4 linked regions of the Homo sapiens genome follow. The protein of the gene in region 1 purifies or fractionates together with the protein of each later gene. This does not show direct contact. Each region holds a gene or a part of one and is shown in the gene's direction. Other genes may lie near its edges. The genes, in order: PCDHAC2, LSR, ST7 and MACO1.

Region 1 (7,022 bases):
AGTATCCACAATTTGATCATAATCTGCTATTTCCTCTCTAGAAAAATAGCACTAAAGAATTGTTTTATTTTTCATTTTCAGAGGCATGAAGCCTTGTCCATAAAATTGTTTGAGAAGTGAGGATTAGTCTTAATATTTAATGCTAAAACACAGATTTGTAGAGAAACAGGACAGGCCTTGGAATAGGGATTATGTTTTAGGGAGTAATGTTATGAGACTCAAGGAGAAATGGCCTCTGCTGTATCATCTACAGGGAAATTTTTCTTTTGAAATCCTATATGAGTGATGTTTCTTAAAAAGCTCTGAGGCCTCTAGGGGCTATCATAGTCACCACTATCTGCTGTCTCTGTTTATACTCTGGACTGTCTACAGTGGAAATTATCTAGTTAATATTTCTGGTACTTGCACTGAACCTATGTGATAGGATCCTCTGGAAATGCATGTCACAAGTGATAAAGCTGTAGTATTTAGACATCATACTGAAGCTAAAGTTTGCTTTGGCTGTATGATGTGGCAACTCTTCTGTAGAGGGCTGTCAGAGGGAGTGGATGATGGTGAGGCAGAGAGATTAAGTACCAATTTGTCTGGTTGGTCCAGGGAGGTATTAGAATGAGTGGATTAGGGGTGTGGGGGGATGGTGAAGACCAAGAGAAGCTGGGATTAGAAGGAAGAGAAGGGAAAAAGAATTCTCCCAATAGTCACCTTTCTTGGCATACTCTGAATTCATTGTAAGAGGATTTCCCTGAATTTAGCTTAAATGCAGCCTGTAATCTTCTGATTTTCTGTTGACAGTTTCTATGGTTTTGATGAGATGTAAAGTAGCCTTTTCAAGTCCTTCATGTCTTTAAGTTAAATGACAGTACTTCCAAAGCATGCATTCATTTTCTGGATCTAAAATTTGATTTGCTATAGCTTCAAAAGGCTGGCTTGGAAAGTGGATGGCTTACCCTACAGTAAGGTGTAGAGGCAGGTGTTAGTATATGCACTAGTTTTGAGATTTAAGTAGGTATAAGGCCAGCTTGTTCATTATTATGAAGAATGTACATAAATTATTAGAAAGTAGATGAATATGTGTGTGTGTTTGTGTTGTGTGTTCGTCTCCATATGTATGCTTGAAATAACAGAGATATGCTTTGTGATACTTAAAACTTGGATTTCAAAAGCCAAAATTTTGTACCATAAATAGTGATGAATTGTTATCTTTCCAAATAACTACTTTGTAGAAAGGGCTTTTAGAGCTACTACACAATGTGTGAACAATATTTGTCTCTCCTCTATTTTTTGCAATATATTTTCATTGACATATTGCTGTACATACATATTGTATGTAATATCCATATTGTTACATTTCAAGTTCATGGTAATCTTGAGGAATGTAATGCACAGGCACAAAAGTTCCATTCCTGATTGAGAGTAGATTTTTCTCATGGACATTTCAGATAGATTTATTCATTTATCAGAAGTGCCTGGTGTTAGTCAATGCTGAGAAACCATGGGAGGCAGATTGTAGATTAAGAAAAATGGGGGAATAAATCAAAGAGTTTCCAGAAGTCTTTAGATCGTAGCATTTGAAAGCACGTAAAAGGGTTTAGCTTTAAATAAGGTTGCTGTAGACATTTGCTTAACAAATTCTTGTGAAGCCCTTTGGGATTGGGGTGGGCTACAGGTGGTGAAGAGGCATGAACAAGTCAGGCCAGGCTCAGCTTTGCCACCAGCTGTAAGCCGGAAGCTCAGAGGAAAGACACTGTTACCCTCCCTCTCCTGACTCAAAGCTTGGGGCAATTTGATACATAAACTATTTCTGTCTTACACTGACCTGTATATTAATATGTACTTTGGTACACAAACATTTAATCTAGGGAGAAAATTATTTCAGAAAGTGCTTGCTTTTGGGAGATTTTGCCAGGAGAGTGCATGACTTTAATAAAGGCAAATTTCTGCCAGGCACTTTTGGAAATCCAGTGAAGAACCCCAAGATCTACAGCTCCAGAAATTTTTGCAGTTATAGGGAGAGAGTGTCACATTGTTACAGTGTGGCAAGATAGGAGCAAAAGCCACTCAGTTCTGAAAGTCATCATTGCCAGATCAACCTGTTAAATTCCCATGTTGGGCTTTCTTTTTTTCCTACCTAGTTACTACAGATGGCAGGAGAGTCCTGGGGTACAATTAGTACCATGTGCCTACATTAAAAGTAGATGGGAATTAGAGAGGAAGAGTAAGGGAATTTGTACTCACTAACCACCCTGCTATATAGATATATGTATATCATACATATACACATACATATATCTCATATTACTGAATCTTGAATATTATTCAAGATTATTCAATATATTGAATATTATAATATTGAATACATATATGATTTCATTACCTGCAAGTCATGCGTTAAATATTTGTTAACATCTAGCATATGAGGAAATAAGCTCAGGGAGGTTAGGTAATCTACACAGCCACACTGCTAGTGTTATTTTAAGTTGTATCCATCTGACTCCAAAAACTTTTTTTCAATACTATGAGTAGACAGAAGTTCCAATGTTTATATTCCCTTTTATATGGGATATTCAGGCATTTAAGCTATCACTAATTCACCTAGTCGTATATATTAACTGCTTTTGGAAAAAGAGTAATTTCTGGCATAGAAGCAGGTAACAAATGGGAATATCAGTGAGTTACTACTATTTTTTTATTTTTATTTTTTTGAGACAGAGTCTTGGCCTGTCACCCAGGCTGGAGTATAGGTGTGAATATGGCTCACTGCAGCCTCGACCTTCTGGGCTCAAGCAATCCTCACACATCAGCCTCCTGAGTAGCTTGGACCATAGATGTGCGCCACCGTGTCTGACTAGTTTTTAGGTGTTTTTTTTTTTTGGAAGAGATGGGGGTCTCACTATGTTGCACATGCTGTTAGTATATTTGTATTTGTTTATTTGCTTCACTATTGGCAAACCCTGTTAAGATCTTTTATTTTTATTATTTCACTGATTTTTCTCTTGTTGCTTATTAAACATCAGCATTTAACCCCAGACTCTAATCTGTTGGTAGATTTTACCCCCAGTGAGCTTATTTCATAAATCACTTGTGCAGTGAGGATTCTGAAGTAACTATTTGGCAATAGGGCAGAATTTCTCTTTGGAAATTTCTGAACTTGATACTGAATGTTGTTGGCACTCCCTTCAGAGTCTCCATAAAAAGAAACCAAATTTTTTTTTTTTTTTTTTTTTTGAGATGGAGTCTCACTCTGTTGCCAGGCTGGAGTGCAGTGGCGTAATCCCGGCTCACTGCAACCTCCGCCTCCCAAGTTAAAGTGATTCTTCTGCCTCAGCCTCCTGAGTAGCTGAGATTACAGGCACGCGCCACCACGCCTGGCTAATTTTTGTATTTTTAGTAGAGATGGGGTTTCATCATGTTGTCCAGGATGGTCTCGATCTCTTGACCTTGTGATCCACCCGCCTTGGCCTCCCAAAGTGCTGGGATTACAGATGTGAGCCACCATGCCCGGCAAAGGAAACCAAATCTTAAGGTAGATTCTGTGCATTTGTGGTCGTGGTGTTGTGATTGTTAATGAGTCACTTTGAGTACTCTAGTAGATTTGTCCAACAGTGTCTCAGTGGGCCCAGCTGGCACAACATGTAGAAATTATGAAAGAGTAGCAGAGATGAATTAAGTTTGCATTCACTTTCACTTATTTTAAAGCAATTTGTAGTCACCAAACCTTCAGTTATTTCTGCCACTATGTGTGCATATTCACCCTAATTCCAGGTATAGTGACCTGAAAGAGTTAATTCTTCTTTCAGTGGCACCTACTTTTATTTCCCCCAGCACTGATTTTTCTATCTGATGACTCTATCCTGGAACAGAGTTTACACTCGTTGTAAAGTGACATAGTAGTGAATTTATAAAAATTGCACAATGGTCAGAATAGACAAAGAAATCATATCTATGAGCTTCCACTCCAGTTTTTCATCCTCTGATGGTCACTTTATAATGACTGGGGCTGTTTTAGTTTGCAAATTTCATATTGGTCACAGGACTCTTCTTCTGAGAAAAAGTTTATTTTCTTTGGTCTGATGATACAATAATTTATTTCAATTACCTCTTTCCTCAATTTTTCTACAGACTGCTGAGCCAGATGGAATTATGGCTGAGCTCTTCTCTGTTTCTGTATCTTGTACACATTCTGACTGAAGAAGAAATCTATTTATTGTAGCTTGAATGTCATTGGCCTACTGTTTCCTTCTGACCCAGGAGTGAGCCATCACATGGGCATCTGGTCTAACTCAGAACACTCTGCAGGGACACAGCCTGGCATATTATAGGTTGCCTATTGGCATGCTGTCTACTTGACAGAATAGCAAAGTCAGTTCTGGGTACTTGCTTGTTGCCTACCAATTTTTGCTCTCAATGAGAGGTCAGAATAATGTCAATTTGCAAATGTTTGAGGAAACATTCCTGTCACCAAACCCAGAGGTTTAGCTGAATATGATGGCATTTTACAGGTGTCTTTAAATGTGGCTTTTACAGAACTTCACCTGGATCAATGTTTTGTGCATGTGATAATACAACTATAAATTTAGCTTATTAATATGATAATATTTGGAGCAGTATAATCTATAACCATGACTTCAAAAATCAAAGGTTAAAAGTATTCTTTTGCAGTGTTTTAAATCTGCTAACCTGAAAACTATACAAGGGTTTTTCTTTCAAGAATTTTAACTTGACAAATGCAAAGGAATATCCAACATTGCAAAGGTAAAGAGAAATCTTAGTTCCTTGGCATATAAGCACCATCAGTTCCTTTCTGGCCTTCCAGGGTCAGAACTCTGGGCTCCAAGGAGGTACAACTGTGAGTGAGAGAGTAGCTGCTGTGCTAGCAGGCTATGCATCCAGAACTAAACAGACCTAGCACTTTCTGTTGTACTGGAACCCATTAGGTATGTTCTAAAGTTATGTTTATTTTACTTTCCTGGTTTGTAAATTAGCATTTTAAATGACTACATTCAGAGGAAAGTATTCCACCCAGAATTCTCAAATGTATTACCTTTGTGTTTTATTTTATTTTAGTTTTTTTGAGACGGAGTTTTGCTCTTGTTGCCCAGGCTGGAGTGCAATGGCATGATCTTGGCTCACTGCAACCTCTGCCTCCAGGGTTCAAGCGATTCTCCTGCCTCAACCTCCCGAGTAGCTGAGATTACAGGCATGCGCCACCATGCCTGGCTAATTTTGTATTTTTGGGTTTCACCATGTTGTTCAAGCTGCTCTCGAACTCCTGTCTCCACCTTGGCCTCCCAAAGTGCTGGGATTACAGGTATGAGCCACTGCGCCCAGCCCTCATTTTGATATACTAGAAGACCAATATGCAACATAATGATTATTTTAAATGTTATATTCCCTTTTGCCTTAATGCGGAACAGTCTATGTATCCCTTTTCTGATGATTTGTAACAAATTACCACAAGTAAGTTGTTTAAAACACCACCTATTTGTTATCTCACAGTCCTGTACCATGTGGCTGAGTTGTCCGCTCAGGTATTCTCAAGGCTGAAATGAACACAGCTGGGCTGTGTTGTCCTTTGCAGGCTCTTAGGAAGAATCTACTATCGAGCTCATTCAGATTGTTGGCAGAATCCAGTTGTTTGGGGACTGAGATCTCTGTTTTCCTACTTACTATTGGCCTGGGGTCACTCTCAGTTCCTAGAGAACTGAGGACTCAGGACTCTTGTCCCATGGTCTGCTCCATCTTCATGGCTGGCACTGGAGAATCTTCCCTCACATGGAATCCCTCTTATGCTTCAGATCTCTCTGATTTCTGTCTCTGACCTCTAGACCCAGATTTAAAGAGCTCATGTGATTATGTCAGTCCCATCCAGATGATCTCCCTTTCTTAAAGCCAACTGTGCTACATAGCATAATGTAATCATGGGAATAAGATCCATCACAATCACAGTCTTGGAGACTATTCAGGGTGTGCACACCAGGATATAGGGATCTTGGGGCCATCTTGGAATTCTGCCTATCAGTTTATATCAATGTTCATAAAATAGCACTATGCAAAATCTGCAGTGGATATATTCTTAATACAGTCCTATTAGGAAGGAAAAGGAGATATTATATGCAGTCTCATGTCCCAGAGGGCAATTTGTTGATGTCTTCCACATGGATTTCCATGGTACGAAGATAGCATATTATTTCATTGAGTAGTTGTGTGAGTTTATTAATAAAATAGGGTATTTTAAACTTATTTTACTTTAAATCTTAGAAGAGGTGATTCATCCTTCTGTAGCTCAAATATTCTATGTCATAAATCACAGATAATACCATTACAAGATAAATTAAATCTTTTTTATAATTTTAATAGGAACTGAAGTGTATTCTTATTCTTCAGTAATACTACATCACCCATATGGACTACCTAATTGATTTTTTCCACATATGGAGTTTTGTGACCATTATTCTACCAAAAGACTAACCTTTGAAGCAATAGGACATATTAGAGTTCTTCACCAATAGAAAGTAAGCATAGTCCTGGGAGGTACCATCTAAGTATTAAAGAACTAAATAATCACAGTTATTTCAACTGTGATTGAAATTGTGATAGTAATATATGTCTTACTGTGTCAGATATATCAGTAGTCAACTTTTCAACTTGAATTTTTCCAAGTTTAATCAAGTTCTGGATGAAACTCATGTACATTTTACTACTTTTAGTTTTGTATTGTTTTAAATCAATATCCTGGAAACTCAGAAGTAAAAAAGAGAAAGAAGAAAAATATATGTCATTTCATGTAAATTTATTTAAAACACAGACTTTTGGCAAGGCACAGTGGCTCAAGCCTGTAATCCCAGCACTTTGGGAGGCCGAGGAGGGTGGATTGCCTGAGGTCAGGTGTTCAAGACCAGCCTGGCCAACATGGTGAAACCCCATCTCTACTAAAAATTCAAAAATTAGCCAGGTACGGTGGCAGATGCCTGTAATCCCAGCTACTAGGGAGGCTGGGGAAGAAGAATTGCTTGAATCCGGGA
Region 2 (7,433 bases), on another chromosome or scaffold:
TGAAGGTAAAAAACACACACATGATCATCTGAATTAATACAGAAAAGGTATTTGACAAAATTCAACACACCTTCATGATTAAAAAAAAAAAAACAGAAAACTAATCATACAGGGAAAATTCCTCAATGTGATAAAGGGTATTTATGAAAAACTCACAGCTATCATCATACTCAATGGTGAAAGATTGAAAGCTTTCCCCCTAAGATCAGGAGTAAGACAAAGATGGCCATTTTCACCATGGCTATTGAACACTGTATTGGAAGTTCCACCCAGAGCTATCAGACAGAAAAAGGAAATAAAAGTCATTCAGATTGGAAAGAAAGCAGTAAAACTATCTCTATTCACAGATGACACGATCTATGTATAGAAAATCCAAAAGAATTCACAAGACAGCTACTACAGTTAATAAACAAGTTGCAGGGTACCAGATCAACACACAAAAATCAGTCATGTTTCTATGCACCAGCACTGAACAATCCGAAGAGGAAATTGAGAAAACAATTTCATTTACAACAGCATCTAAAACAATTAAATACTTAGGAATAAATCTAACCAATGAGGTGAAAGACTTGTACACTGAAAATGACAAAAGATTGCTAAAATAAGGCCTGGCACGGTGGCTCAAGCCTGTAATCCCAGCACTTTGGAAGGCCGAGGCGGGCGGATCACGAGGTCAGGAGATCGAGACCATCCTGGCTAACACGATGAAACCCCATCTCTACTAAAACTACAAAAAATTAGCCGGGCGTGGTGGTGGGCGCCTGTAGTCCCAGCTACTCAGGAGGCTGAGGCAGGAGAATGGCGTGAACCTGGGAGGCGGAGCTTGCAGTGAGCTGAGATTGGGCCACTGCACTCCAGCCTGGGTGACAGAGCAAGACTCAGTCTCAAAAAAAAAAAAAAAAAAAAAAAAAGATTGATAAAATAAATTAACAAGTATCTAAATAAATGGCATAAATGGCAAGATGTGTTCATGGATAGAAAGACTTAACATTAAAAATGTCAATACTACCCAAAACAATCTACAGATTCAACACAATGCTGATCAAAATTCCAACGTCTTTTCCCAAAGAAATGGAAGCAGATCCTCAAATTCATATGGAGTTTTAAGGGGCCCCCAATAACCAAAACAATACTGAAAGAGAAGAATAAAGTTAGAGGACTCACACTTTCCATCTGTGAACTTACTACAGAGCTATAGTAATTAAAACATATGGTACTTGCATAAGGATAGGCGTATAGATCAATGAAATAGAATACAGAACCGAGAAACAAACCCTCACATATATGATTAATTGATTTTTGACAAGGAAGCCAAGACCACTTAATGGGAAAAGGACAGTGTTTTCAACAAATGGTAGAGGGAAAACTGAATATCCATATGCAAAAAAATGAAGTTGGACCCTTCTACCACATACTAAAATTAAAATGGCCCAGGCCGGGTGCAGTGGCTCACACCTATGTGAGCACTTTGGGAAGCCAAGGCAGGTAGATTACTTGAGGTCAGGAGTTCGAGACCAGCCTGGCCAACATGGTGAAACCCCATCTCTTCTAAAAATACAAAAATTAACCCAGTGTGGTGGCATGCACCTGTAATCCCAAATACTCGGGAGGCTGAGGCATGAGAATCGGTTGAACCCGGCAGGTGGAGGTTGCAGTAAGCGGAGATCACACCACTGCACTCCAACCTGGGCGACAAAGTGAGACTCAGTCTCAAAAAATAAAATGAAATAAAATAAAGTGGCTCAAAGACTCAATTTAAGAGTTAAAACTATAAAACTCTTAGAAGAAAATATTGTTGAAAATCTTCATCACATTGGACTTGGCAACAACTGCATAAATAGGATACCAAAAGTACAAGGAAGAAAAAATAGTAGGTAAATTGAACTTCATCAAATTAAGAACTTTTGTGCACCAAAGGACACTATCAAGAAAGTGAAAAAACCTGGAGAATGGAAGAAAATATTTGCAGATCATATATCTAACAAGGGATTAATATTCAAAATATATATAGAACTCCTACAACTTGACAACAAAAAAACAAACAACCCAATTCAAAAATGGGCAAAGTACTTGAATAGACACTTCTCCAAAGAAGATATACTAATGGACAATAAATTCGTGGAAATATGCTCAACATCGTTAGTCATTGGGGAAATGCAGATTACAACCACAATGAGATGCCACTTCACACTAACCAGGATGGCCATAATCAAGAAAATGGATAATAAGTTTTGGTGGGGATGTGGAGAAATTGGAATCCTCCGTGCATTGCTGGTGGGAATGTACAATAGTGCAGTCATTGGGGAAAACAGTTTGGCAGTTCCTCAAAAGGTTAAAAATAGAACTACCAAGTCACCCAGCAATTCCATTCTTAGGCATATATTCAAAAGAAATGAAAGCAGATATTTGTACACCAGTGTTCACAGCTGCACTATTTACAATAGTCAAAAGGTAGAAACAACCTAGGTCCATCCACAAATGAATGGATAAATAAAACGTAGCATATACATACAATGGTACACTAGTCCGCTGTAAAAAGAAATTTTGATCTTACTGCATGCTACATGGCTTCGACATACTACAACATGGATGGACCTTGAAAACATTATTCTTTGTGAAATAAACTAGACACAGGACAAATGTTAGACGATTCCACTTATATGAGGCACCTAGAATGGGCAATTTGGTAAGCAAAGTAGAATAGAAATTACTAGGGGCACAGGTAGCAGGGAATGGGGAGTTACTGTTTAATGGTCACAGAGTTTATGTTGGGGATGATGAAACAGTTTCGGGGATAAAGAGTGGTGATTGGTACACGACATTGTGAATATACTTAATGCCACTGAATTTTACACTTGAAGTGGTTAAAGCGATAAATATTATAGTTTGCATATTTTATCATAAAAATATTTTTTTAAACGATGAAGGGACGTGAACGGGTTGAAATTTTATAAAAAGTGGCCAGGGAAGGTGTCACTGCAATGGTGTCCTACAGGAGGAGGAAGATCATGTGGACATCTGCGGGAAGGGTGTTCTGGCAGAGGGAGTAGCACGGGCGATGGCTCTGAGGACTGTGAGAAGTATAGTTGGAAACAGCGAGGAGGCCAGGGTGTCCGAAGCTGAGTAAGCCAGAGAGAGTGGGAGGAGGTGAGATAAGAGGGGGAAGGTCAGTTTCTGCTGAGAGTGAGGAGGAGCCACAGGAGGGCTGTGAGCAGGTGGACGTGATCTGGCTTGAGTTTTAACAGGGCCAGTAGAACAAAGCACGCCTGGGTACCGAAACCAGCCACTGGCCAGTTGGCAACCTGGGGGAGTCTAACGCGAGGAAGCGCCCAGGGTTCCCCCAGGATGCGCTTTCCCTCGCCGCCACCTGGAGACAGCAGAGTCACGCCCAGCGCTGCGCAGGCTGATCGCCGCGCCGCGCCCCCGCCCTCGGTCGCAGGTGGCTCGTTCCGGGAATTCCTAAGCGGAAACCGGTCCCAAGCCCCGCGCCTTCGCTCGGCCCCTTTAAGAGCCAGAATTTCCGGAGGGCTGACCCGGGGGCTAGGGATGCCCAGGGGCCGAACCACAAGTTGGGAACGGGTGGGGGAGGTGGCGAAAACTTCCGAAGTGGAATTCCAACTTTTCCTGGCCCTGATTCCCCTTGGGCATCCCTGAGGGGGCAGAGCTTCCCTTCCGGGGACTTTAGAGGGTTCCTCAGGTCATCTAACTGGGAGACACAGGAGGCCCGAAGCGCCCCCCCTCCACCCGGTCCGGAGGAACCCCAGTGGAAGTGGAGAAGTCAGGCGCCACCAACAAGCCTCTCCCAGCCAGGACTTTGCTTAGACTCGCTCCTCCCGGCAGGGCGCACCTAGGCGGGTCCATCGCCAGCCGGGGAGAGGGGTTTGGGCAGGGAGGGAACAGGTGCGCGGCGGGACCCGCCCTATCTCAACAGGTGAATCGCTCCAAGTGGGTCTCGGTTGCATGGATCTCGGTGCGCTTGGTTTGGCCGGAGCAGATGGGGGCCGGAAGGGACCTGTGGTCCGCAGGCGCCCTCCCAGCGGGCCAGTCACTTGGTTCGGGCCCTGGGGGACGGAGCGCACCTGGGTCAGCCCACTTCCGGGGAGGGAGGCAGAGGAACCCCTCCCCGCCGCTCACCCCTAAGCCCAGCCCTCGGCTCCCACCCTTGTGTACCTGGGCCGAACCATTCACCGGAGCGCGCAGCGGGTGGAGTGTGGCTCGGAGGACCGCGGCGGGTCAAGCACCTTTCTCCCCCATATCTGAAAGCATGCCCTTTGTCCACGTCGTTTACGCTCATTAAAACTTCCAGAATGCAACAGGACGGACTTGGAGTAGGGACAAGGAACGGAAGTGGGAAGGGGAGGAGCGTGCACCCCTCCTGGCCTTGGTGCGCGCCGCGCCCCCTAAGGTACTTTGGAAGGGACGCGCGGGCCAGACGCGCCCAGACGGCCGCGATGGCGCTGTTGGCCGGCGGGCTCTCCAGAGGGCTGGGCTCCCACCCGGCCGCCGCAGGCCGGGACGCGGTCGTCTTCGTGTGGCTTCTGCTTAGCACCTGGTGCACAGGTACGGGGCACGGGGCCTCTGACGCTGCGGAACGCCGGAGGGAACTGTAGAGGGGGATGGATGGAGTTGGAGGCGGCGGGAAGCGGGAAGCGGGGGTCTCAGAGGCTGGGACCTTCCGATCCCCTGGGTCTTGGGCGATCTGTTGCGCGCGGGAGTGAGAGGAATTCCCCATTTGTGCCGGGGAGCGCTCCCCGCGCCCTTATCTGGAAGATAGCAGGAAGTGAAACTCCCTGGACGGTGAGACCCGGAGCGGCAGGGAGAATGGAACTCTTTGTGGGGAGGGAGTGGAAGACCGCCCGATCTCTGGGAAAAGAAAAGCCGGGATGGGACTTGGGCGCACCCGGGGATTTCTAAGTTTTGGAGTAACGGGGAGAGGGCACGGGAGGGCTGGATCAGACGCTTCCTAGAGGGACAGAGACGAAGGAACAATGCCTAGGCCTCGGGTGGGTGTGGGACTGGGGACTCCCCATCCCCCGCACCCCACCCACCTCCCGCGGGCTCCGGATTATACGTGCGTAAGAGTCTGGTGGGATGGATTTACGGACTTGAAACCGACTTCTGCTGGCAGGCTTTCACCTGGATGGGATATTTGGGTGGTGATGAGGTCTTTCCCGAGACACTTTTGGTTCAGTCATTTGAAATGACTTTAGAGTAGGGTGAGGTGGTGGGAGGCTGATGGAGATATTGTGGGGGCTTTAGTCCCTCCATGGCAAAGCAGTTCAGGCAAACAACTCCATGGTTTTCCCTCCAAATTCAAAAGGCCCCGGGTAACCTGGAATCCTTCGTAGTCGGTTTTGAAGTGGGGCCTTGGGCGCTGGGGGCATCAACATGGCCATCTGGGCTTGCCTGCCCAGGCCACACAGAGGCCCCTTGTTGTGGGTGAATGGCAAAGGGAAGAGGGGACTGGTGTGGTTCAGAGGCCACAGGCTGGGAAGAGGGATGGCGGGCGAGTCCAAGGAAACTGGCCGTGTCACCGTGCACCTGCCACTTCAGCCCCACGGGTCTATAAAATGGGCATGATTATCGTGGCTACCTCACTGGTCCTGGCAATTAAGGAACAATGTGTGCCAGGCACTCTGTAAACCACATACTTGCGAGTGTCAAGCTGGTGACAGGTGGCGTTCCTGTTGAAGCACCTCCCTGAGCTCACAGCAACCCTTGCTGTCTCTCCTCTTGCCCTCAGCTCCTGCCAGGGCCATCCAGGTGACCGTGTCCAACCCCTACCACGTGGTGATCCTCTTCCAGCCTGTGACCCTGCCCTGTACCTACCAGATGACCTCGACCCCCACGCAACCCATCGTCATCTGGAAGTACAAGTCTTTCTGCCGGGACCGCATCGCCGATGCCTTCTCCCCGGCCAGCGTCGACAACCAGCTCAATGCCCAGCTGGCAGCCGGGAACCCAGGCTACAACCCCTACGTTGAGTGCCAGGACAGCGTGCGCACCGTCAGGGTCGTGGCCACCAAGCAGGGCAACGCTGTGACCCTGGGAGATTACTACCAGGGCCGGAGGATTACCATCACCGGAAGTATGTTGGGCAGGGCAGGGGGATGAGGCTGGGCTTGCCCGGGTGGTGGGACTGGCGTCCTTGTGCGGGACCTGGAGTCCCCATCTGAAAGCTCTTGAGTGCCAGTGTCTGAAAGGACCATTGAAGGGAGCAATTCTTTTTTTTTTTTTTTTTGAAGATGGAGTCTTGCTCTGGACTCCAGGCTGGAGTGCAGTGGTGCGATCTCAGCTCACTGCAACCTCCACCTCCCAGGTTCAAGCAATTCTCTTGCCTCAGCCTCCCGAGTAGCTGGGACTCCAGGTGCGTGCCACCACGCCCAGTTAATTTTTGTATTTTTAGTAGAGATGGGGTTTCACCATGTTGGCCAGGCTGGTCTCAAACTCCTGACCTCAAATGATCTGCCCGCCTTGGCCTCGCAAAGTGCTGAGAGACACCATACCCAGCCTAAAGGGAGCGATTCTATTCTACTATTCTTCCTTCTGCTAATCCTTCCATTCTTTAATTTAATAACGAAGATTTTTTGAGTACCTGTCATATACCAGGTGCTGTTCTGGGCCCTGGGAATACAGCTGTTAACAAAATCATCAAACCACTTCCCTCGTGGAGCCCACATTGCAGTGAGAGAGACAAACACGACACACACTCTCAAGTCCTTGAAGATAAAGAAAACTGGGTAACGGAGAGAAGAGGCCAGGGTTTGTTCTATAATCATTAATAACACGAGCAGTAAGAAGTAAAATTTATCTAAGTAACAACTTATAAAGGGTCTACTGTGTGCTAAGCTCTCATCCAGGTTCCCAAGGATTAACTCAGACCACACAGTAATTGAATAGATTCTATCATTGTCATCTTACAGAGGCCCAGAGAGAGAAAGTGACTTGCCTAGTGTCATAGCTGGTAACGGGGCTGGGATTCTAACTCAGCCACTTTGGGTCTAGTGGCCAAGCTCCTAATCCCTTTGCTTGCCTAGGGTGGTCCGCAGAGGACTCACAGAGGAGATGGCAGGAGTGAACTGCAGGGGCAAGAGAGCTTAATGGAGAAAGCCTGTGACATGCCAGGAACTGCACACATATTCTCCCATTGAGTCCTCTCCTCTACCCTCCTGACAGCTGAGGCACAGAGAGGTTACCTTGTTCAAATGGGTGCATAGGAAGTCAAAGTCTGGAGCTGGGGTTTGAACCCAGGCAGCCCTGAGAACCTTGTTCTTTTTTTTTGAGACGGAGTCTCGCTCTGTCGCCCAGGCTGGAGTGCAGTGGCGGGATCTCGGCTCACTGCAAGCTCCGCCTCCCGGGTTCACGCCATTCTCCTGCCTCAGCCTCCCAAGTAGCTGGGACTACAGGCGCCCGCCACTACGCCCGGCTAATTT
Region 3 (7,265 bases), on another chromosome or scaffold:
CAGGCAGGTTGTGTGGAGCAGGTCCAAAAGTGTGAAAGAGAATAGCATGTTTGCCAAAATGCTGGTGCTATTAAGGTAGGCAGAAGTGCCCTTGCAGAAGGCCTGAATACCATCTAGATTCCATCCTTTAGTTAGACACTGGGATAAAAGTAGGAGTGCAGTAGGGGTGGGGCCTTAAATAATTTTATGCAAGGAACGAGTTATCGGATTTGTGCTTTAAAAGGTAACTGGTAGAGAAGTGTGGAAAGTGGATGGAAGGAGGCAGTGGTGGTGCTTGCCGTGGTGCAAATAGAGGCAGGGAGCCCACTGCCTTGTTCTCTATGAATGATGATCAGGCTATCACCAAAGGCTGAGAGAAGTGGCGGCCTGAGTCTTGATGTACAGTGGAATATAGAGAGGAAAGGAGGTACATGATGCTCAGATTTCTGAATTAGGGAACTGGAAGGATGGTGCCCATTCCTTGATGGAACTCTAAAAGGAACAGATGAGGGTGAAGAGGTAATGCATTCCATTCTGCATGTGATGAGCTTGGTGATTGTGTGCCATTCCACTGGGTGATTATCAAGAGGTAGTTAGGCATATCTGGGGTGTCATTATTTCATTAACGGTCCCACTCAAGAGCCCCCCCCTTATCCGTGCTCTGCCTGTTTTTTTTTGTGTGTGTGTGTGAGGCAGAATCTCACTGCTACACCCAGGCTGGAGTGCAATGGTGCAATATCGGCTCACTGCAACCTCCACCTCCTAGGTTCAAGCAGTTCTCCTACCCCAGCCTCCCGAGTAGCTGGGACTACAGGTGCGTGCCACCATGCCCGGCTGATTTTTGTATTTTTAGTAGAGACAGGGTTTCACCATATTGGCCAGGCTGGTCTCAAACTCCTGACCTCAAGTGATCTGCCTGCCTCAGCCTCCCAAGGAGTGCTGGGATTACAGGCGTGAGTCACTGCGCCAGGCCTGCCCTGCCTGTCTTATCAGTCACCAAGGCCTGTCACTTCTGCCTCCCCTCCCTTCCTTCCTCCCTTCCTTCTCTCCTTCCTTCACTCCTTCCTTCCCTTTATTTTTCTCTCTCTGCCTCTTTCTTCCCTTCTTCCCCTTCTCCCCGCCTCCCTCCCTCCTTCCCTTCCCCCTCTCCCTCTTTCTTTCTTTCTTCCTTCCTTTTCTCTTTCTTCTTTCTTTCTCTCCCTTTCTTTCTTTCTTTCCCCTTCCTTTCTCTCCCCTTCCCCTTTTTCTCTTCCTCCTTCTTTCCTTTCTTTTTCTTCTTTCTCTCTCTCCTTCCTTCTTTCTTCTTTCTTCCTTTCTTTTCTTTCTCTATCTTTCCTTTCTCTCGCTCCCCTTCCCTTCCCCTTTTCCTTCCTTCCTTCCTTCCTTCCTTCCTTCCTTCCTTCCTTCCTCCCTCCTCCCTCCTCCCTCCCTCCCTTCCTTCCTCTCTCTTTCTCTCTTTCTTTCGACAAGGTCTCACCCTGGAGTGACTGGCACAATAACAGCTCACTAAAGCCTCAAACTCTCAGGCTCCAGTGATCCTCCAACCTCAGCCTCCTGAGTAGCTGGTAGTACAGGCACACACCACCACACCCAGCTAATTTTTAAAATCTTTTTGTACAGACAAGGTCTCCTTGTGTTGCCTGTGCTGTTCTCAAACTCCTAGACTCAAGTGATTCTCCCACCTCGGCCTCCCAAAGTTTTGGGATTACAGGCGTGAGCCATCTACTTCCTTAATATTTCTTAAATCTCCACTTAAATAAATCTCTGAGTTGGTCATTTGGATTGGTGTGTGCAATGCCCCATAACTATGAACACCTTAGCGTTTCTAGTAGGCCCTTCAAAATGACTCAGGCCTGTATCTTTAGCTTTGTCTGTATCCACACCACTCTGCAGAGGCTGCACTCCAGCTATACTGAAGCAGCCACAGTTTGCAAGAGATTATGCTTACTCACTTCTGTTTTGAAGTGTTTTGAAGCACAAAGGCATGTGTACAGTCCCCACCACATGCCAGGATGCACACCAGGAGAGGCAATGATATAGGGCTGACTTCCCAGGAGCGCCTAGTAGAAAATTAGAAGATTGTGACTTAGCGGAGTCATATTCATGTCCATTCATTGAAGTTCATTGACAGCAAAAAGCCAGGCCTCCGGATGTTCATTTAAATTAAGTAGTCAATATCCTAATTCAGTGACTCGCAGAGAATCTGGTGGGTTATTTAATCATCACATAAAATAGGTGGTTCATGTACTCATGTTGAGGCAGGAGACTAGGTTCTGGAGGCAGGGAAACTAAGGACTTCCTTGAACTACATTGAAAGGAAAACCCTAACTTTCCACGCCTAAGTAACAAAAGGACCAGAGGCTACCTTTGACCTTTTCTGCCTAGTAGATGGGAAATTGGCTGTCTGTAACCAATCAGACTGACTGCGGGTCCAATCTTCATTTGCAACTTTGTAACTTCACTCCAGCCTCTGAATGGTTGTTGTCCACAACTAATCAGACTGTGGGCGAGTCTTCGTTTGCATAGAAGCATAACTTCATTAAGTACATCCCAGCCTCTGATTGGTTGTTTTTTGCAACCAATCAGATGTTTGCACAGGAGTGTTACCTTTGTATCTTCATTTCAGCCTCTGGTTGGCTGCTTTCTGCAACCAGTCAGACTGATTGCGGGCTACCACTTCATTTACGTGAGATGAGCATGAGTTGCCAAAGGGAAACTTCTTGGGGGTATTTGGACCCAAGAAGATTCTGTATTCGGCCTTTGAGCCGCTGCTCCGCCCGCTCCCACAATGTAGAGTGTACTTTCGTTTTCAATAAATCCCTGCTTTCGTTCTTTTGTCGCTTCTCTGGGTGTTTTGTCCAATTCTTTGTTCAAAACGCCAAGAACCTGGACAACCTGCAGTCACGATCCTTTACTGGTGACAATATTGTTTTATTTTACTGAGATTCCATGTATCAGTGTTAGACACAAAAATCATTTGGTCATGTGCTGCCATAAATAACTATAAAGAAAGTCTATGTGTGCCAATTTCACTTATTCTGGCCTGGATCTCACTGTAGTAGATCAAATGTGAGGAAGAAACAGTAGCCGAGAGAGGCTGGAATTAGTAAAAATTTAAGAGTAGTTCCATCCATTATGTATGCCGTAATAGGCCCTATATGTGAAAAGTTAAAGGAGCTTATTTAATTATGAAGGAAACTATTATACAAGTAAGCAAAACAATTTATAATAAAATATTCTTTATGCTCAGAATTTTAAAAATAGATGTAGACTGGAAAACCTGCAATTTCCTCATTACCATCTAATACATAGAAAGTCAAATCACTTACGGACAGAAACAGACTTGAAAATTTCAGCTGAGAAAACATTTTAGAATAAAAGAAACATTTTATTCAGCACAGTCAAAACAAAACAAAAACAACAAAACAATGTTTAAAATGGACTTTCTGTTAGAGGTGGCCGTTTCACAGTCAAAATTATCCCAGAGAATTGTTTATATTAAAAACAGGCTGAGAATAGTTTGACCTCTGATCACCAAAAAACCTGGAGGATAAACATTCATCTGTCAAGATTTCTCTGGAAAATCCCTGCGCTGCTTCAAAGAGACAGAACAAAGGTAAATAGCATCTGCCACCCAAATCTTGCTGAATAGAGTGATTTATCTTCAGGCCTACTAGCCGGCGACAGGAGCGCACCTCCTCCCTTCTCCTAGCTGTCCCGGGTTTATTCATTCCCTGAGCCTGAATCCTGATAAGGGAGCAGAGTAGGGTTTAAGACCTCGGACCCCAGAATACACCACTGCAATTGAATTTTGGTTCCACCTTAAGGTAAACTACGCAGCTGCTGTGAGCCTCAGTTTCCCTACCTATAGAAAGAGGATCGTAGTGGGGAATTGTTGCAGGGGTTAAATGAGATTGTACGGATCGTGGAGCAGCGCCTGGCGTGTGGTAAACGCTCAACTTATGCGGGTTGTAACTGCCTGAGGCGTTTCCTTCGGCGCGCCACTTGGCCTTCTCTTTCTAAATATTAGCATAATAAATATAAATGGACCCAGAACGCGAGGGGGCAGGGGCCACGTGATCGCTCCACGAAAGCCACTTGTAGGGACCTTTAGAGAGTTAGCAATAAGGCTGGAGAAGGAAAAGCCGGCGCGCCCGCGGCCCGCGCGATTTCCCGCCGAGCCCGCGTCCCCGGCGGCGGGCGGGCTCCGGGGGCGCCCGGGCCGCGGCGGCGGCGGCGGCGCGAGCTGCGCCTCCGGGCCGGTGAATCATCCCGGCAGACACCAAGAGCCGCGGCAGCAGAGAGGAGCGCTGAAACATGGCTGAAGCGGCCACGGGCTTTCTGGAGCAGCTCAAGTCCTGCATAGTTTGGTCTTGGACGTATCTGTGGACCGTGTGGTTCTTCATCGTGCTATTCCTGGTCTACATCCTGCGGGTGCCTTTGAAAATCAACGACAACTTGAGCACAGGTAAGGCCTGGGAGCCGGGCCCGCGGCGCCCACCCCTCCCCCGCCCCGGAAAGTTAGTGCAACTCGCGCGGGGCCGCGGCCAGGCGCGCGCTCGGGGACGCGCCGGGGCCCGCGCACCGGAGGCCCGCGGCTACCCGCCAGCAACGCGGCGGCTTAGGCGGCGGGGCCGGGCAGCTGGGCGCGCGGGGGCGGCCGGTGGCCTTCACGGCCCCGCGGAGGAAGAGCTGCGCCGCGCACAGCCCGCAAGGCGGGCCGGGCCGGGCCGGCAGCCGCCCTGCTGCGTCGCTGGTGGTCGGGAGACGGAGAAGAACGGGTGTCGCGGGCGAAGGAGTTCCCAGGACACCCCCTCGGGTGTCTGCGCCGGAACTCCGAGGGTTCCCCGGAGTTAGACCGAGTCCTTCCTCACGCCCTCCCGGCTGTGGGTGCCAAGCGGCCGAAGTGTGGTCGGGGAGGCGCCCTCCCGCCCGGCCGCGGAGGCCCGAGGGCGGCTGCCGGAGGGTGCTCGGCGGCGAAGCCCCCTGACCCGGCCGGGCTGTCCGGGCGGCGCCCTCCGTGGCCCGGAGTTGCGTCTTGCCGGGCGTGGGGCTGTCTCTCTGGTTGGGTAGTGGGGAGAGGGGTTCCCGAAGGCACTCTTGGGAGTGTATGGATGACGTGTCAGGTCACCAAATGGATTGTCGAAGGGACCGGAGGGAAGAGGGGAGAGCTGGAATTTCTGAGGGTTTCGGTTGCAGTTTTCAGTGATCTTTGCTCGTCTCCCTTCCCTGTAAAGCTACATATGCTCAGCAAGTGCCGCGTGCCTCCCATCCTTGGTCGGTGGTAAATGCAGGAGGTAATTAACAGGATCTTCACAAACTTGGAGCCAGCCCACTGAGTCGTTAAAAAAACACCCGCAAAGAAAACACACGAGCCTTAACACTCCAGAGAGTTCCGAAACACAAAGTAAATTTCGAGCTAAGGGTTACAGTCCTTTAAATCTGGAAATTTCAAGGTAGAGTGTTTTTGTTTTTGTTTTAAATTTTAATTTCACAGTACTGGGAAATTCTTACAGTCCTGAAGATATATACATATGTACACATATATATCTTCCCTTGTTAATCTCCATACTCTGGGAGTGCAAGTCTGGAAATGCATTTTCCTCAGGTGTTTAGCTGCATTAAAACGCTTTTTAAAACGCTTGAGATAATGTACTCATTTTGTTAGGAAACTTGTACCTTTCAGATACTAACTTAAGTATTTTGATTACTAACTTGAACTCATGTTCATATTTACATTTGTTTTGTAGTATCCCTCGGGATCGTGTCCCTGGGAGGCGGATAGGATTCAGCACTCTAGAATTGTCTCACCATTTGAATAGGTGCTGCTCAGCCCTTTTGAGTCTGTCATCGGAAAGACCATGGCTTTCTCGCTTTTCATCTTTTTGGATGGCTGCTTGTCGCAATATTGTCTTCTTCGCTTTAGACAAGTATGTCTCCAGGATACCTTCTGGTCTCAAAGTTCTATACCTTTAAGAAGTTGTTTGAATATATGTTTTAATGGAATTACGTATTTGTTGGTAACAGTGTTAGTCTGTTTTGTGCTGCTGTAACAGAATACCACAGATTGGGTAATTTTTAAAGAACACATTTTATTTCTTGTAGTTCAGGAGTCAGGGAAGTCTTGAGATCAAGGGACTGGCATGTGGGGAGGTCCTTCTTGCTGTCATCCCTTGGTGGAAGGTGGAAGGGTAAGAGAACATGAGAAAACAAGAGGGGGCCCACTTTCACTTTTATAACAAACCTACTCCCTCAATAACAAAATTAATTCATTCTTGAAGGCAGAGCCTTCATGACCTAATTACCACTCACAGGTCCCACCTTTCAACACTTTTGCACTTGGGATTTTCAAACACACTAGTTTTTAAAATATTAATGTTTCTCCTTATTACACACTTAAAATTTTATTTCATGATATACATTTGTATATCACATTTTCATCAGGTTAAATAATTACCCATGTATATATGTGTAAGTGTCACATCCAGTGCTCTGTGCAGATCAGGCAAGAAGCAAAATATCTACTGGGAAAATGTGTACTTCTTAAGGAAGGGCATTGTTAGGTCTTCTAGCAATTTAAATCTAGCATTTCTCAGAGATGCCTTTGTTAATTTGTGTAGGGGCAGTTCTAAGAGATAGCGAAAATATGAAGATGAACGTGCCATCCGGGCTGTACCTTGCTAGACACATGATAGAAGACCTGATGATGCTGGACTTTTCAGTTTGGTTTCATGCTCATTTCAGTCATAAAGAAAGATAAAAGGGGAAGCACACAGAGAGCACTCACCTCTCTGCTGTTTTTATGAGAGGGTAGCAGGATCTGGGGTGGGAGGAGGACTTTGGCATTAATTTTGAGACATGAAATTATAGCCACAAACCACCCTAGAACAGTTTAGGTTTTTCAAAAAACAGTTGCAGACATTAGAGGCCTATTTTCTTCCCTTTTAAGTAACAGTGAGAAGTTATAGTAGGAAAACTGCCAAAAGGTTGTTGTCAACTTAATTCCCTCCTTTCCTTGCCAATTCCCCTCCCCTTTGGGAAAAAGTTTCTGTACTGAAGTTATTGGCAAGGAAGGCCCAGGGAGAAAGAAGTCATTAGCCAGCACCCCTGAGAGGGGAGGCAGGAGCTAGCCTGGTCTAACTTGTCCTTGCAGGGAGGTCTAAAAGAGTTCTAACGGGACTAACTTTGCTGTTCTTCAGCCCTGTGGTGCTTACTCTTCCTGTGATGAAGGCAAGTGTGTTCCTGGAGAGGTTACTGAATCTGGAGCTGCTTTTAGGGAGTTGCAG
Region 4 (7,868 bases), on another chromosome or scaffold:
AAAATCAGTGTCAATCTCACTGGGTTGTTGTGAAGATTCAACGAGGCAGTGCATAAAGTGTCAGATGTGTAGAAAACACTCCATAAATGTTAGCAATTATGATTATCACACAAGCTTGGCAAGTTTACTGTAGAAACTTTGAAAATACAGATGCATAAAGCTAACATAAAATGTCCATTTCAGTCTCTCCAAAAACCAGCACTATGTTTTGAGTGTATATCCTTTCAGATGTTTTTCTATTCCTGTCGATTTAGGCCTTGTTTTTCTCCCTACAAAAATGGGATTACACAGCACATACTGTTTGGTAACTTGCTATTTTCATGAACTCTATATCATAAGCAGTTTCCAAGCCAGGAAAATCTTTCTACAACAATATAACATGGTGGTTAAAGAGCCCAGGCACTGAAAGCAGACTGCCTGGATTTGAATTCCCAACTCTGTTACTATGTGACCTTAGGCAAGTGCCTTAACTCCTCTGTGCCACAGTGTCCTCATCTGTAATATGGTGCTAGTAATCTCTATCTCATAGGATTGTTGTGAGGATTAAAACAAAATGTATCTGATACTTGGAGTGGCGGCTGCCATAGTTAGTGCTGTGTATAATCATCCTCCATGCCACACTGACTTCCATGGTAAGGATATGTGATAAAGTGTTTGGTCAGTCCTCTCCCAAACTAGCCCTGTTCTAAACACTACAGTGAACATCTTCCATTAACATGGTTCTGGCCTGGTGTGGTGTCTCACGCCTGTAACCCCAGCACTTTGGGAGGCCAAGGCAGGTGGATCACCTAAGGTCAGGAGTTTGAGACCAGCCTGGCTAACATGGCAAAACCCCATTTCTACTAAAAACACAAAAATTATCCAGGCGTGGTGGCGTGTGCCTATAGTCTCAGCTACTCTGGAGGCTGAGGCAGGAGAATCACTTGAACCCAGGAGGCAGAGATTGCAGTGAGCTGAGAATGCACCACTGCACTCCAGCCTGGGTGACAGAGCAAGACTCCATCTCAAAAAAAAAAAAAATAGGTTTCTCTAGGGGATACAGGTACATGTGTTAAGAGGTGGCCATCGAAATGTTTGGACTTTTCTGTGATTCTTACAGGGCAGGAACAAAGCTCAAGACAGCTAGTGGGCTTGCGGGGATTGAACGGGCTGACAGAGGTGGGAATACCATTTCCTTATATGTGAAACAGGGTTTAATGATCTGGCCTCTAGAGCTGTTCTGGGCTCAGCTGAAGCCCAAGTGCAAATCCCTTCATCAGAAAGTCCCAGAAGGAGGGACAAGCCTAAATTCCTCTGTAGGCCTTGGTCTTTTGAATGAGGGCAAATTACTTCCCTTCCTTGTTTCACTCATTTGTAAAATGGCCACTGCTGATCTCTGCTTCCTGACTGGTGAAGGTGTGGGGAGCTGGGGCCTTCTGGCAGGAGGCCCACTTCTGTGCCCTTAGAATCCCAAAGGGCCATTTCAGGACTCAGAGGAAAAAGGCTGGCACTTGGCTGGAGCCAAAAGGGCTTGTGCTAGAGTGGGTCATGGAAAAAAGAGCTGGGTCTGGAGGAGTGAAAGAGGAAGAGTATGGAGATGGGCAGTCCTGCTCTGGCCTCTCCTTGGGTCTTGGCAAGAAGGCCATTCCCATCATCTCACCCCAACTCTACCCATCAATAGCTATATACAGGCACCACAGCTTGCTCAGCTTGTGCTTTGAGCTAGATTGCTCTACCACACCTATTATGTGACCTTGTTTCCTCTCAGCCTCAGTTTTCTCATTTGTAAAATGGAGCTAGCACAATCTGCTTCTAAACATAGAACTAGAAGCACCACCTCCAGAGGAGATCTTGGCACAGGGTGGGCTGGTGACTCAACCAAGGACACTAGTGAGTTGCCATGTGAATTGGGATTGGAACTTAGACCTCCAGACCTTCAGATTGTTTGTCAGCCATCACCCTCAGATTTTCTCTGCCCTTTCTCTGCTTCCACATAGTCCTAGAGCTCAACAGTAACTCTCAGCCACAACCTCCATTGCTCCCAGCCACTCCGCACTTTTGCCACAGCATGAGATGCCCTGTCAGGGTCTATTTAATAGTAGGCTAGACAGTGAGCCTCAGAAAGCTGGCATGTGTCCCCAGTGCCTCTCATCTTTTCTTTGGCTTACTCATCTAACCATCCCACTTAGTCTCTGGCCCAGGTAATCTGGAACACTGCAGTCATGGGGATGAGGGATATTCAAGTCTGGGGTTCCCATGGAGGCTGGAGCCCGGACTTTACCATGTACCTGTTCCTGCGCTCCCCAACGCCTTTAAGCTTCCATTTTGATTTGGTTCCCACCTGTATCTTCCTCAGTGAACCAATCTGCCTTGGCAGCTGAAGGCTTTTTTCTACTGCTCCACACATAGCATTCTGTTCATATCCTTTCTCAATGATGGGCAGGCCTTGGTGAAACTTTGAGCTCACAGAGTTTGTTTTCTTGGCCACCCGGTGCCACTTGATCAATATACTGAAGTAGAATTAAGGCATGAGAAACAAGTATACTGCTAACAGCAGTTACTTTCTGTTACCTACTGCTTGTCTGGCTCTGAAGGCTCATTGTCCTCCAAGCCTTAAAACAAACCTGAGTGGAAACAGACTGTGAGAGATTTAGTAACTTGTCCAAGCTAGTAAGTGGCCAAGCTAGAATTTCAGCCCTACTCTGAAAAAGCAAGTACTTTGGCCATTTTTCTTAACTGTATCTCTGCAGGGTATAGATTTGATCTCCAAGAAGCTTTTTGCCTAAGTGGATGGATAAGCCTTGCCTAAGAAACCACACACCAGAAGCGGCACTGACAGAGATACTGTGTTGGGGCAGAGGCAGGAAGGGGGAAAGATCGGTTGCAGTGGATTTAAGGATAGTGAGAAAAACGGTTTGCTTGCCTGGCGTAGCCTGGAAAAGGAGGGTGGGTCCCCACTGTGACCAGCTCTGGATGCCCTTCGAAACAGAATGGGTTTTCTCTTCCAGGCACTGGGAGATCTTTGAAGGTTTGTGAGCAGAAGAAAGTAACACAGAGTCATGATTGAGGACAACGCATTTGGTGTAAAGTTTCTCCCTGGGGTAGATGTTGATTAAGGGAGGGGTGATTACAGGCCAGAGAGAGTTCTGTGAAACCCAGGACAAAACAAAATGGCATCTACTTCCTGGGAAGTTTTTTTTTTTTTTTTTTTTTTGAGACAAAGTCTCGCTCTCCTGCCTCAGCCTCTCGAGTAGCTGGGACTACAGGTGCCCGCCACCATGCCCAGCTAATTTTTTGTATTTTTAGTAGAGATGGGGTTTCACCATGTTATCCAGGATGGTCTCCGATCTCCTGACCTCGTGATCTACCCGCCTCGGCCTCCCAAAGTGCTGGGATTACAGGCGTGAGCCACCGCGCCCAGCCCTTCCTGGGAAGTTTTAAAAATGCACTGGAAGACTAACTGCCCCATTGTCGTTGAGGGATTACACTGATAAAGCTACTGGATAGGACATTCTGCAATATTTTCAGAAATATTTATAAAAGCTGCATTAAAACATGTAAAAATGCTTATGTTAAAAACAGTATGACTACTATTCTAGTATGACTACTATTCTAGTATGACCACTATTCTATTTAATAGCAATAGTAACATTATCATCCATAGGGGAAAATTGGAAAACAAGCAAATACAATAAAATGTCAACTGTATTTGTGTTAATGTGATGAGACTCATTGGTGTTTTTTCCTTTTCGGCCACTTTCCTACATTTTCCCCAGTTTTCTCTAATGATAAACATTCTTTTTATTTCTCTTAAAAAAAAACACCATGCGGACTTTTCTAAGTGTTACTTTGCCATACGTACGTGGCAGGGGAGTTATAAGGAGTAAATGAGCAAATACACGCAAATTACCCAGCACGGTGCCTGGCATAAAATCGGCGCTCAATGAGTACGAAGCGTGAAGGGTCGCCGGCCCCGCGTCCCCGCCTTGCAGGAGCCCGGACCCGCCGAGCAGGCTCCCGGTCCGGCCCGGCCCGGCCCGGAGGCCGATGCTTCGCGGTAGTGCCCTCGCGGGTCCTGCGGACTCGGCGCCCGCGGGGCCCACAGCGCTGCCCAGCCTGTGGACGTGGAGCCCGGGCCGCACCGCCGCACACGCCCCGGGCATCTCTGCGCTACGTCGCGCGCCCCCACGGCTCCGCCCCGTGGCGTAACCCGGGGCGGGGCCGCCACCTCCGATTGGCCGGCGCGCTGTCACCACGTCGCGGGAAGCTGGCAGGGTGTGTGTCTGTGTGCGTGTGGGGTTTGCTTTGTCATTCGTACCCCCGGTGCGCGCTGACGCGGTCGGCCTGGCCGAGCTCTCCAGCATCCGCAGAAGGGTCCCCGGCGCTGTTCCTGGGATGCTCCCTTACATAATGACGCGACTGGCTGAAGCGCACGTCAGCGCAGACACCGCACATGCCGCAAACCCGGGCCTTCCGATTTCATACATTGCTAGACGAGAGCCTACAATGCCATGCCGTACGGTATGCTCTAGTAGGGATTACAATACAATGAAACGCAACCCAATAATAATAAAGCATACCTTCGCAACAAGGCGTAATATAGGATGTTATATTTATAGGGCCTATTTATAAGCCTCTATTTAAATCTTTTCTGATAGGCTCAGCCGGGGACCCAGACACTATAATGATTGGCGCATTCTTCCGTCCTTCAAAGGGGCGGGTTCTAGAGTCAGTTTTGCCTCAGCGGGCCCTGGGATTGGCCGACAGCGGTTTACCGGTGGCTTCTATTGGCCTCCCGGGCCGTCCGTCGGAGCCGAGGAGGCGGGGCAGGCGGCTGGCTGGTGCTGGGCGGGCGGGCCCCGGAATTGTCATTTCTTTGTTTCCGAAGGCGGAGGAGGCTCCGAGCCCCCCCTCCCCGTGCTACCCCCTCCCCCCGGGTGCTGGCTCCATGTCTGTGTGACCGGCCTCAGGGGTAGAGTCCAGGCCCGACGCGGGGCGGGCCAGCGGCGGCGGCAGCTGAGGTGAGAGACGGCGGCGGCGGCGCGGGCACCCGGCCCCCCAGCGGGAGGATGAAGCGGCGGAACGCCGACTGCAGTAAGCTCCGCCGCCCCCTAAAGCGGAACCGGATCACCGAGGGCATTTACGGCAGGTGAGCGGCTGCACCCCCACTCCGCGGGCGCGGGCCCTGCGGTCCCCCTCCAGCTCCGAGGGGCCTGGCCCCGTTATGTAACCCCGAGTAGGCCGCACGCCCGCGCCGGGGGCTCTCCTAAGGAGCGCTGGCCCCGGAGCCGCTGGCCCGCCCGCCGGGGTCCGCCCCGGGTGCGCGGGGCGTGGCGAGGGTCGGCCCGGCCGGGCGGGCAGGGCGCGGCGGGCGCTGGCTGAGGGAGCCGCCGCGCCGCCGTTGGAAGCGCCGGGCCCGCCGGGGGGAGGGGCGGAGAGCCCCCAACCAGCCCGGCGTTCCTCAGCATCCCGGCCATGCCGCTGGGCCGGGAGGGCCGCTTCCGGGACCTCTGACTGGCCGCCGCTGGCCCCCGAGCCCCCCGGTGGCCTGGGGGCTTGCCGGCCGGAGCCAGGAGGCGCGTGGACCACAGCGCGGGGGGGTGGGGGAGGCTGACAAAGTTGAGAGCCCACTGTGGCCCCTCGTTCCCCCAAGCTGCCAGCATACTGGCCTGGGGCCATGCTGTCACTTCTTTCACCTTCTGCTTCCCATATGGGATCTCAAACTTGGCACCCAGGGCTGAAGCTGATACCCCCAAATCATGCCCTGTGGCCCTGCTCCAGATTCGGAAGGGTCTGATGACCAGTTTTTCAGCAAATATTGTTTTGACAATTCCAAGCAGATAGCTTGCTTTGAACGTTTTTAAAAAGGGATTTTCTCCAAACTCTTTTTTTTTTTTTTCATCCGCAAGAAAAGCAGTGTCCCTTTAAATAGAAATTGAATTCAGTCCACCGGTAGAGAAAGACAACAGGTTCATGGGGCAACTTACTATCATAGCTTCCCCAAGTCGATTTGTGTACGACTGTTATTTTCTGGTTCTTCTCAGAATGTTACTTGTAAATGGTATTTGCCTTGATACAGATTTCGGTGGAGAAGTAATTAGTTTACAAAGAAGAATTCTCAGCATGTGGATGTAGGCTTAATTGAGTCCTCATGGTGTTTTACAATTAGCTTCTCTAGCTGTGGGATTTCAAGAAATATGTGAGGTAGCTGATGACACCCAAGTTGTCTTAACATAACTGTACACCTTGCACATGCTCTTGTTTACAGATGTGGAATGATTGCTTTCCACAAGCAGCTGACTGATGTAAACACTGGGGATTTTCTTCAAGTTTAAAAGCATTAAGGAATCAAAGTAAAAATTTCTTGGGTATATTCTTATAAAATGAGCCATAGAGCATAGGAGTAATTCATTCATTCATCAGTTATATATACTATGTGCCAGGAACATTTCTAATCAGTGAAGATAGAGCAGTGAGTAAAACAGACTCTAATCTATGCTGGATGAATCGAACTTGACCATTTTAACTTGAACTGTGAAAGCAAACAATTTTTTCTACACATAGATGGAGGAAAGGTCTCTTCAATTCACGTTACATACACTATACATTCTTGAATTAAAGAAAGTTTTTCCCCTTTGGCTATTGAAAAATATTTGACCAACTTAACATTAATGGTAACATAAAAATAGGAAAGGGATATTAAACCGAGTTGGTAGACTTAGCACAACTGTGGCATTTGAATAGCTGCTATTTACAGTAACATAAGATGATGTACCTCCATTTATAGCAAGAAGATTGAGAGTCCCATATTGTTTACGTGTTTTCTGCTGTATTTCCATTTCTCTGTACTTGAACAAATAGACCCAGTTTACAACCTGCGCCATAATAGCTACTCAGTGTGAATCGATGTGAAGAAGTGAATTCATCGTTTAATGAAGATTTATCATCTTACTGATGGCTTTTGAAATTTGAATTTTCTTACCCTAAAGGTTAATTGTAAATACTCTTTGCAAGTTATTCAGAGGTTCATCTGCAAAATTTTAAAAACCGACAGTGCATTAGCCTTAAATCTTCTTATGCTTCTCTGTTTTGCATTCTTTAAGTTAAATGTTAATAAAAGACCTAAATGTATTTCTAACTGTCTTTCCTGGTTGGAGTATCATATATCAAATGAGCGTTTCAACTCACTTATCTGTTTCTTGGTTTATATTATGGAGTATTGGACTGAAGAACAAGATTTTTTTTTTTTTGCCCAATTCTGTTTTTAAAGAGATTTAGAAAAATTTCCTGTTATTTCTAAAGCAAACAGGATGAGTGGACTGGTTATAAACTAGAATGCTTGAGGATTCATGAATATCAAATTTCTGGTGATCATCAAATTTAAGTCTATGCTAAGTTGTTTTTCACACCATCTATTGCCCATTTTGTTTCTCAACAACATGTGGCCAATTTTGGATTCATTAAACAGAGAGCCTTGTTTTTTTTCTGGGGCCGTGTTGACAGTTTTGATAACCACTGTCTACTGTTTCATAGCCAAACCTTTCATGGACTTACTATTTTCATGTTCTCAGTCTGTACAACTTTCTGAGCCTTGGCATAGGAAGGAGGCAGCTGTGGTGAAAAGCGCACTGGACTGCAGGAATCAGGAGACCCAGGATCAGACTCAAAATCCCAGCTCTGCTGCTTTAGGCAGACAGGGCATCCACAGCTTTGAGCCCCAGTTCTCCCACCTTCAAATGAGTTTTGAGGACTAAAGGAGATATGTACAGTTTGTGAAATGCTTTATAAATCCTAGTGTAGTTTACAGATACTATTTACCATGTTGTTGCTATCACAGTTTAACGTGTGGTTAATTTTTTAAGGAGGCAGGAAATACTGTAAGATTTGGT

Evidence for each region.
Region 2: the proteins of PCDHAC2 (region 1) and LSR purify together in Homo sapiens (co-immunoprecipitation; 3 studies listed by BioGRID and IntAct, with this or other methods). This does not show direct contact.
Region 3: the proteins of PCDHAC2 (region 1) and ST7 purify together in Homo sapiens (co-immunoprecipitation; 3 studies listed by BioGRID and IntAct, with this or other methods). This does not show direct contact.
Region 4: the proteins of PCDHAC2 (region 1) and MACO1 purify together in Homo sapiens (co-immunoprecipitation; 3 studies listed by BioGRID and IntAct, with this or other methods). This does not show direct contact.

The regions. Positions count from the first base shown.
Region 1 is NC_000005.10:140,969,458-140,976,479, forward strand, and holds part of PCDHAC2 (protocadherin alpha-C2 isoform 1 precursor), read left to right. Parts: exon of another isoform or gene 1-23; intron 24-7,022. UniProt on the Homo sapiens protein: Potential calcium-dependent cell-adhesion protein. May be involved in the establishment and maintenance of specific neuronal connections in the brain.
Region 2 is NC_000019.10:35,244,572-35,252,004, forward strand, and holds the start of LSR (lipolysis-stimulated lipoprotein receptor isoform 2 precursor), read left to right. Parts: upstream 1-4,430; 5' UTR 4,431-4,451; coding exon 4,452-4,560; intron 4,561-5,743; coding exon 5,744-6,088; intron 6,089-7,433. UniProt on the Homo sapiens protein: Probable role in the clearance of triglyceride-rich lipoprotein from blood. Binds chylomicrons, LDL and VLDL in presence of free fatty acids and allows their subsequent uptake in the cells.
Region 3 is NC_000007.14:116,949,245-116,956,509, forward strand, and holds the start of ST7 (suppressor of tumorigenicity 7 protein), read left to right. Parts: upstream 1-4,256; 5' UTR 4,257-4,296; coding exon 4,297-4,447; exon of another isoform or gene 4,448-5,090; intron 5,091-5,216; exon of another isoform or gene 5,217-5,435; intron 5,436-5,729; exon of another isoform or gene 5,730-5,909; intron 5,910-7,178; exon of another isoform or gene 7,179-7,265. UniProt on the Homo sapiens protein: May act as a tumor suppressor.
Region 4 is NC_000001.11:25,426,051-25,433,918, forward strand, and holds the start of MACO1 (macoilin), read left to right. Parts: upstream 1-4,846; 5' UTR 4,847-5,048; coding exon 5,049-5,128; intron 5,129-7,868. Other genes in the region: RHCE (blood group Rh(CE) polypeptide), read right to left, coding at 3,890-4,142. UniProt on the Homo sapiens protein: Plays a role in the regulation of neuronal activity.